Homo sapiens: one gene and its partner. The gene in region 1 interacts genetically with each later gene. Each region holds a gene or a part of one and is shown on either strand. Other genes may lie near its edges.

The links.
Region 2: changes in MRPS35 (region 1) and PGD together harm fitness more than expected from each alone (negative genetic interaction), as found in Homo sapiens cells (one large-scale study listed by BioGRID).

What each region holds. Positions count from the first base shown.
Region 1 is NC_000012.12:27,738,169-27,741,989, forward strand, and holds part of MRPS35 (small ribosomal subunit protein mS35 isoform 1 precursor), read left to right. Parts: intron 1-3,821.
Region 2 is NC_000001.11:10,412,375-10,416,195, reverse strand, and holds part of PGD (6-phosphogluconate dehydrogenase, decarboxylating), read right to left. Parts: intron 3,135-3,821; coding exon 2,945-3,134; intron 1-2,944. UniProt on the Homo sapiens protein: Catalyzes the oxidative decarboxylation of 6-phosphogluconate to ribulose 5-phosphate and CO(2), with concomitant reduction of NADP to NADPH.

The DNA of each region.
Region 1 (3,821 bases):
TATTAATATATAATGAGATATCTTGGGGAGGGGACCCAAGTCTAAACAGGAGATTCATTTATGTTTCATATACACTTTATACACATAGCCTAAAGGTAATTTTACACAATACTTTCAGTAATTGTGTGCATGAAAATTTTGACCGTGCTCCATCACATGAGATCAAGTGTAAATTTTCCATTTGTGTGTCATATCAGTGTTCAAAAAGTTTTGGATTTTCAAGCATTTCAGATTTTAGATTTTCAGATTAGTAATGCTAAACCTGTATTTAAATAATATTAAAAATACTCGAGTCTGAATTTAGAGAGTTTTCATGTAAGTATGTACATTTATAAGGAAGATTTTGCCATGCTTGAGCAACACCTCATCTGATTTGAAGTTGGTAGCCAATATGTTTAGGTAACTCAAAGTTTGAAACAGTAATTTTTAAAATTAAAATAATTATAGGTATGCATTTAAATTAAATTTTTTGTGCCTTACCCAACACAGGGGACTCAATAGCATTTCATACTAGGAACATTCAAAGGAATAAAGTTAGCTGGAGAAGGGGGTCATGTTCTTTAGAAAGGACTTCATATGTCAGTGTCTACAGAAACAGTGAAAAAAGGAAAAAGAAGTAAAGAAAAATAGAAAAAATAAAAGTTTTCATATGGAAGAGGGCTTACATTTGTTTTTAATGACTCTTAGAGATACAACAAGGTAGCGACAATAGTAAGACAGAGACAGACTTTGGTTTACTGAGAACTTTTTTTTTTTTTTTTTTAAAGTCTCACTCTGTTGCCCAGGCTGGAGTGCAGTGGAGCGATCTTGGCTCACTGCAACCTCCGCCTCCCAGGCTCAAGTTATTCTTCCCGAGTAGCCAGGATTACAGGCATGCACCACTACCGCCTGGCTAATTTTTGTATATTTAGTAGAGACAAGGTTTTGCCATGTTGGCCAGGCTGGTCTCGAACTCCTAACCTCAGGTGATCCACCCGCCTCGGCCTCCCGAAGTGCTGGGATTACAGTTGTGAGCCACCATGTCCAGCCCTCCCAAGGGGAACTTTGTGAGAGAGCCATCATAAGATGCAATGAGCTACTTCAGTAGGTAGAAAACATTCCATCCATCGGCCACTTAGTGAAGATAGGCAAAAAAAATATACTCCTTGAATAGGTAGTTAAATTCCATGGCCTTTGGAACCTCCTTTCAGCCCAAGTTACTGTGATTCTGTGAATACATGCAGCTGTTCTCTAAACTGCTCACAGCTTTTCCTTCATATTATGATAAAAGAGTTTTCACACAAGAGGATGAATGGAAAGTGAAAGAAAAAAACTTGGTTGTGAGATGAGTAAAAGACAAAAAGTAGCTGGTAAGCTCTTCTCTTCTTTACAATTATTTCCATTATTATAATTTATCTGGATTTTCTAGTTCTGGCTTTAAGAGCAACATCAGAATAGCAGTTAATCTCTTTCCTACACAATTGATTTTAGAAATGCTGTTGGCTTAAGATAATTAAGTTTTCTTTTGAACCAGCAACATGGCTGAATTAGCTACAGCTTTATGGCTGTTGCTGCTTAAAGATTTAATAACTAACAATAAATACAACCCGTTTTGACTTTCTTATTTTGCCAGTATCTATTAGAATGAATTTGCCCAGAAGGAAATGATAGGCATAAATTCAGTGGAAGTTGATTTATGGGATTCTTTCTGTGGTTCCGTGACTTAGAATCCAAACAGGGTTGCATTCTGGATTCACACAGAAGCCTTTGATCTTTAGTGCTGATTACTTTGATGCCAGGATAAGTAGCCACATACAACTGTCCAAACAAGTATACTTGAAGAATTCTATATTACCGTTGTTTCTTGGTGCTTTCTAAACAAGTACCATCAGTGAAGAAGATTTTGAATACAGATGAGCCGTGAAATTTTGCGGAGCTGCTAGAAAAGAATTTTTATTGAATTGAAATTCATTTTCCCTCACCAACATGGAATTCATACTTGAAATTGATGTTATCACCGTTATTTAATCAAATAGAGAGCCTCTTTTTAATCCATTGCTTGATTTTTTTTATAGGCTAGCTTCTGAGCATTTAATACCCAAATATATGCTTCCTTTGGCTTTTTTTTTTTTTTCTTCGAGTCAGGGTCTTGCTTTGTTGTCCAGGCTGGAGTGCAGTGGTATGATCATGGCTCACTGCAGCCTTGGCCTCCTGCGTTCAAGTGACCCTCCCACCTCAGCCTCCTGAATAGCTGGGACTACAGGCGCATGGCACCATGCCCAGCTAATTTTTGCATTTTTTTTGTAGAGATGGGATTTCACTGTGTTGTCCAGGTTGGTCTTGAACTCCTGGGCTCAGGCAATCCATTCACCTTGGCCTCCCAAAGTGTTGGATTATAGGCATGAGCCACTGTGCCCTGCCTTCCCTTGGCTTTTTAACCTTCCCCTAGAGGTTACCTCTAAGTAGCACTGAGGGGAAAGTAGCTGCTAATTTTATGTAGCTTGTAGTACTGAAATCCCTCTGGAGAAGTGATCACCTAGACTCCAGTAGAAGGATATTACTGTTGTATACTATTCAAAACAGTTTAACTATAGAAGTGTCAAAGTAGATTTCAGTAAGCATAGACATCGCAAAGCCTAAGCTTCAGGCATAAAGGCTTAATACTGCCTCAAAGAATAATTATTTCAGTGCTGGGAAGGTGATAAGAGACACATATTCACTGGACCATTCATTTATCCTTCAGCAGTTTAAAGAAGCAAGGAGGCTGGGAGCACTTTGGGAGGCAAAGGCAGGCGGATTGCCCGAGCTCAGGAGTTCGATACCACCCTGGGCAACATGATGAAACCCCGTCTCTACTAAAAATACAAAAAATTAGCCAGGCATGGTGGTGGGTGCCTGTAGTCCCAGCTACTCGGGAGACTGAGGCACAAGAATCGCTTGAACCCGGGAGTCGGAGGTTGCAGTGAGCCAAGATCGCACCACTGCACTCCAGTCTGGGCGACAGAGTGAGACTCTGTCTCAAAAAAAAAATAATAATAATAATTAAAAAATAAGCAAGGAGAGTTGTAGAGATTTGGTGTCCTATTTTAGTATTACGTATTGTTAGCATTGGAATGAATTTTTAACCTTTGGAGCCAGACAGACATGGATTTGAATTCCAGGGCCATTACTTAGTACCTGTGTAATAGCCTCGACTATTTAACCTCTGAGGTTCAGTTTTTTCCTAAGGATTTTTGGATGGATCAGGGAGAATTTGTGTAAAGTGTCTGGCAAATAGTGGGCTCTCCATAAGCATCTATAAATAATGTTGATATTAACAATAATAAAATGAGGAAAGATTTTTTTCTTAGAATTTTAAATTCATGGTTTCCCAATTTCTATTAATATATACAGCTTATATTTAATTTGGCAGAGTTTGTACAAGTAAAGTCAGATCTATACTCTTTAGGATGTGTATCCTACTCACAATTTGACATAATTGATGATAACACAACTTCCTTAATTTTAACTTTTTAGTGATTTTTTAATAATTGAAACCTTCCGTAAATGATTAGGTTGAGAAATAATGAGTCAGTTTGCAAAGTGACTTGCACAAAAGATGAGCACAAATACTGGGGAAGAGAAAAAAAACAGTTGCTTTAGAAAAGTTAGAGATCTGAAATCAAATTTCAGAGATTCATGGGTGATTTTGATATTGAATTACTAATGGTTGCTTTTTTACATTTTAAAATTTCGGCTGTCTTATTTGGATTTCATGATAGTTTTATTGTCAGAACTATGTCTAGCTTTGTAATAAAATGGTTCTGAAAAGTCATGTAACAAAAATTTCTAATTTAGCCAAG
Region 2 (3,821 bases), on another chromosome or scaffold:
CTTGAGCCCAGGAGTTCAAGGCTACAGTGAGCCATGATCACACCACTGCTCTCCAGCCTGGGCAACACAGTGAGACCCTGTCTCTAAAACCAGTAAAATAAAATAAAAACCACTGTTATGTAGAATACTCAGTGTTGGTCCATGAGTAAAATTTCAAATTCAATTTAGAGGACCTTAATTTTTTTTTTTGAAGATTTTACATTGATAAGTCACATTTACGGACTCACCTCTCAAAAAAATGTTAGGTTTTTATATTTTACGGTTTTCAGTATAGCCGTAATCATTCAAGTTTAACCACTTTACTTCATTTGAATTAAAAAGTCAATGTAGTATTTTAATATTAAGACATTTAGTATTTTCAGAAAGTATTCCTTATAAAAGACTTGCTCAACTGACAACTTATAGTTAGAATAAATGACTCTTTAACCACTTTTTCCCCCATAGACAAAATGAAGTAAAATCTCAGGGAACTAACAGAGGACTTTATTTCTGAGGAAAGAGGAGCAGCTATGGCTTGAGACTGCTAACCCTACTCCAAACACACAAAAGCAGCTACCTCTCTCCTGGCCCAAATGCACACACAGGATGACTTAGCATTTCTAGAAGGAAGCTTTGTAAGATGACTGGTGCAACAGGCTATGAGGCAAACCCTTCCTGTTAGAGGGGGAGAGGGCAGCTGGAAGACTTCCCTGTTAGTTCACAAATAATGATGGCTCCCAGCAGGGGGTGGGCCCAGCCACCCTGGGGGAAGAGGTATATGGATCCACAGGAGGAGAGTAGGATTCTGAGATCCTAATACTTACACATATACTTGAGTCCGTGATGAATAAATTGCTCCTAGCTATTGGCCCCTCCCTCCTCACCTATGTTATGGCTCAGATCGGCTAAAAGCAGCCAACTTCCTTCTATACAGCACGGAACTGTAGAAACCACCGACTTTCCTCCTTACTCTGCCTTACACCACACAGTTCAATAGGGCGAGGCACAATGAACAGGGAGGTCAAAAGGGGAGAAGAGTCAAGGGAGAGAAAGGCAACCTGTATCCAGAGGAGCAAACAGGAAAAATTCTGTTTTATTATTTTTGAGATGCTTCTTTTTTTTTTTTTAGGCGGAGTCTTGCTCGGTCGCCCAGCCTGGAGTGCAGTGGTGCGATCTCAGCCCACTGCAAATTCCGCCTCCCAGGTTCAAGTGATTCTCCTGCCTCAGCCTCCTGAGTAGCTGGGATTACAGGCACGGGTCACTATGCCTGGCTAACTTTCGTATTTTTAGTAGAGATGGGGTTTCGCCATGTTGGTCAGGCTGGACTCAAACTCCTGACCTCGTGATCCGCCCACCTCGGTCACCCAAAGTGCTGGGATTACAGGCGTGAGCCACCGCGCCTGGCCCAATTCTGTTTTAATATAGTGAGAACAATCTGCCAGAAGCAAAGATCAGCCTCTCATTAACCACGAGAGGCATCCTTCGTTCTCCTTTTTCATTCCTGCCAGAAGTCTATGTATTTTACTCTTAGAACCACCTTTGCTGGGCATGGTGGCTCACGCCTGCAATCCCAGCACTTTTGGAAGCCGAGGCGGGCAGATCCCCTGAGGTTAGGAGTTCGAGACCAGCCTGACCAATATGGTAAAACCCCGTCTCCACTAATAACACACAAAAATTAGCCAGGCATGGTAGCGCATGCCTGTAATCCCAGCTACTCGGGAGGCTGAGGCAGGAGAATCACTTGAACCCGGGAGGTGGAGGTTGCAGTGACCCGAGATCATGCCACTGAACTCCAGCCTGGGTGACAGAGCACAACACCGTCTCAAAAAACAAACAAACACACTGAAAACCACCCCCCCGGCCAAGATTTTGATATTGTTAATCCCCTCTCGTTTTATGTTTATTTCTTTATATTATTTCCTTATCTTTCTGAGTTTGATGCTTAGCTCACTAATGTAAGATATAAAACAAGTGGGCAGGATACACACCAACTTCAGGATAGTGGCTTTCTTCTAAAAGAGGAAGGAGAAGGAACTTAGCAAAACAACGAGGACTCAAATGGATAGGTAATTTTTATCTTTTTAATATCTAGGGGAAAAAAGTAAATTTTTAATAATTTCTGAGTACACAAGCATATGTTATTCGCAAACTTTTTTTGGAGGGGATGGAGTCTCATTCTGTTGCCCAGGCTGGAGTGCAGTGGCATGATCTTGGCTCACTGCAACCTCTGCCTCCTGGGTTCAAGCGATTCTCATGGCTCAACCTCCTGAGTAGCTGGGATTACAGGCACCTGCTAATTTTTTTTTTTTTTTGAGACGAAGTCTCGCTCTGTCACCCAGGCTGGAGTGCAGTGGTGCCATCTCAGCTCACTGCAAACTCTGCCTCCCAGGTTCAAGCAATTCTCCTGCCTCAGCCTCCTGAGTGGCTGGGACTACAGGCACGTGCCACCACACCTGGCTAATTTTTTGTATTTTTAGTAGAAACAGGGTTTCATCATGTTAGCCAGGATGGTCTCAATCTCCTGACCTCATGATCCACCCGCCTCGGCCTCCCAAAGTGCTGGCATTACAGGCGTGAACCACTGTGCCCGGCCCTGTTATTCATGAACTTTTCTATGAAAAATTTTACTCAAGTTACCTGCCTCATAAATAAAATCTTAGATCACTGACTACAATTACATCACTAATGCTAAAATATTCCAAAGATAAAACTGGATAGGAAGGACAGTCACTTCTGAATTTACCTCACAGTTTGTACGAATGAGATAAGAACTACAAGGAAGAGAATCAAAAGCAGCGTCAGCCTCTCTCACACTGTCAGTTTCTTCAACGCAAGAAAGAGCAAAAGGCACTCTGAAAGCTAAAGAGGGCTGAAGAGATTCTCTAAAGACCAGTCTGTATCTGTCCTCCAGACATCAAGATCAGAATAGTGGACGAAAGGGCCCATGTGAAAAGCATAACATTACCAATGAGGGTGACGGGTACGCCGTATTCCAGGGCGGAGATGGCGGTCCACTTCCCTGTGCCCTTCTGCCCCGCGCTGTCCCTGATCTTTGGCAGCAGGTGTTTGCCATCGGTGTCTTGGAACTTGAGAATATTGGCTGTGATTTCAATCAGGAATGAGTCTAGCTCTGTCTTATTCCAATCCTCAAAGGCCTACATGCAGAACACAGGAGAGAACCATGTTAGAGGAATGAGGGCTGAGCAAGGAAGCCCCTTGTCCAATGTCCACGCTGACCAATGCTCACGGTTGCCAGCAGGCTCTGCTCGCGTCTGCCTGGGGACTTCTGCTCCTGCTGGTTGAGTTTTATGCTAACCCAGAGTCAGTTGTGTTTGTTCTGAACCTGGTTATACTGAATTTCTGGCCACCAGAAGTGTTGTCTCCTCAGAGGCAAGGGCTCCTCACTTCACTTAGGTCTCTGTGCAGTGTCGCCTCCTCAGAAGCCTTCTGCAATCACCGGATCTTGTCCCAGTTTACTCTTCGTTCTCACAGTCATCGCTAACTAGTTTGATATTGTATATTTATTTCTGTCTGTCTTCCCAGCTCCGGGAGGGCAGGCACTTTGCTTTCTTCACTAGTATATCCCCAGCATTTAGAATCATGCTTGGCATATAGTAAAGCACTCGTGTGTTTGCTGAGTGAACACGTTAAGTATTATATATACCAATAAAAAATGAACACAAAAAGAATAGCACTGTTTCTGTGAAAGAAAACTAAGGTAATGTTTTAGAAAGAACAATTAACAGCAATCCAGTGAAACAAACAATAGTCAAAGTAAGTGAGGATGACATGAATAAAAAACTAGGAGGAAAACAACAAAAAATCTGGAAAGCTATACTGTA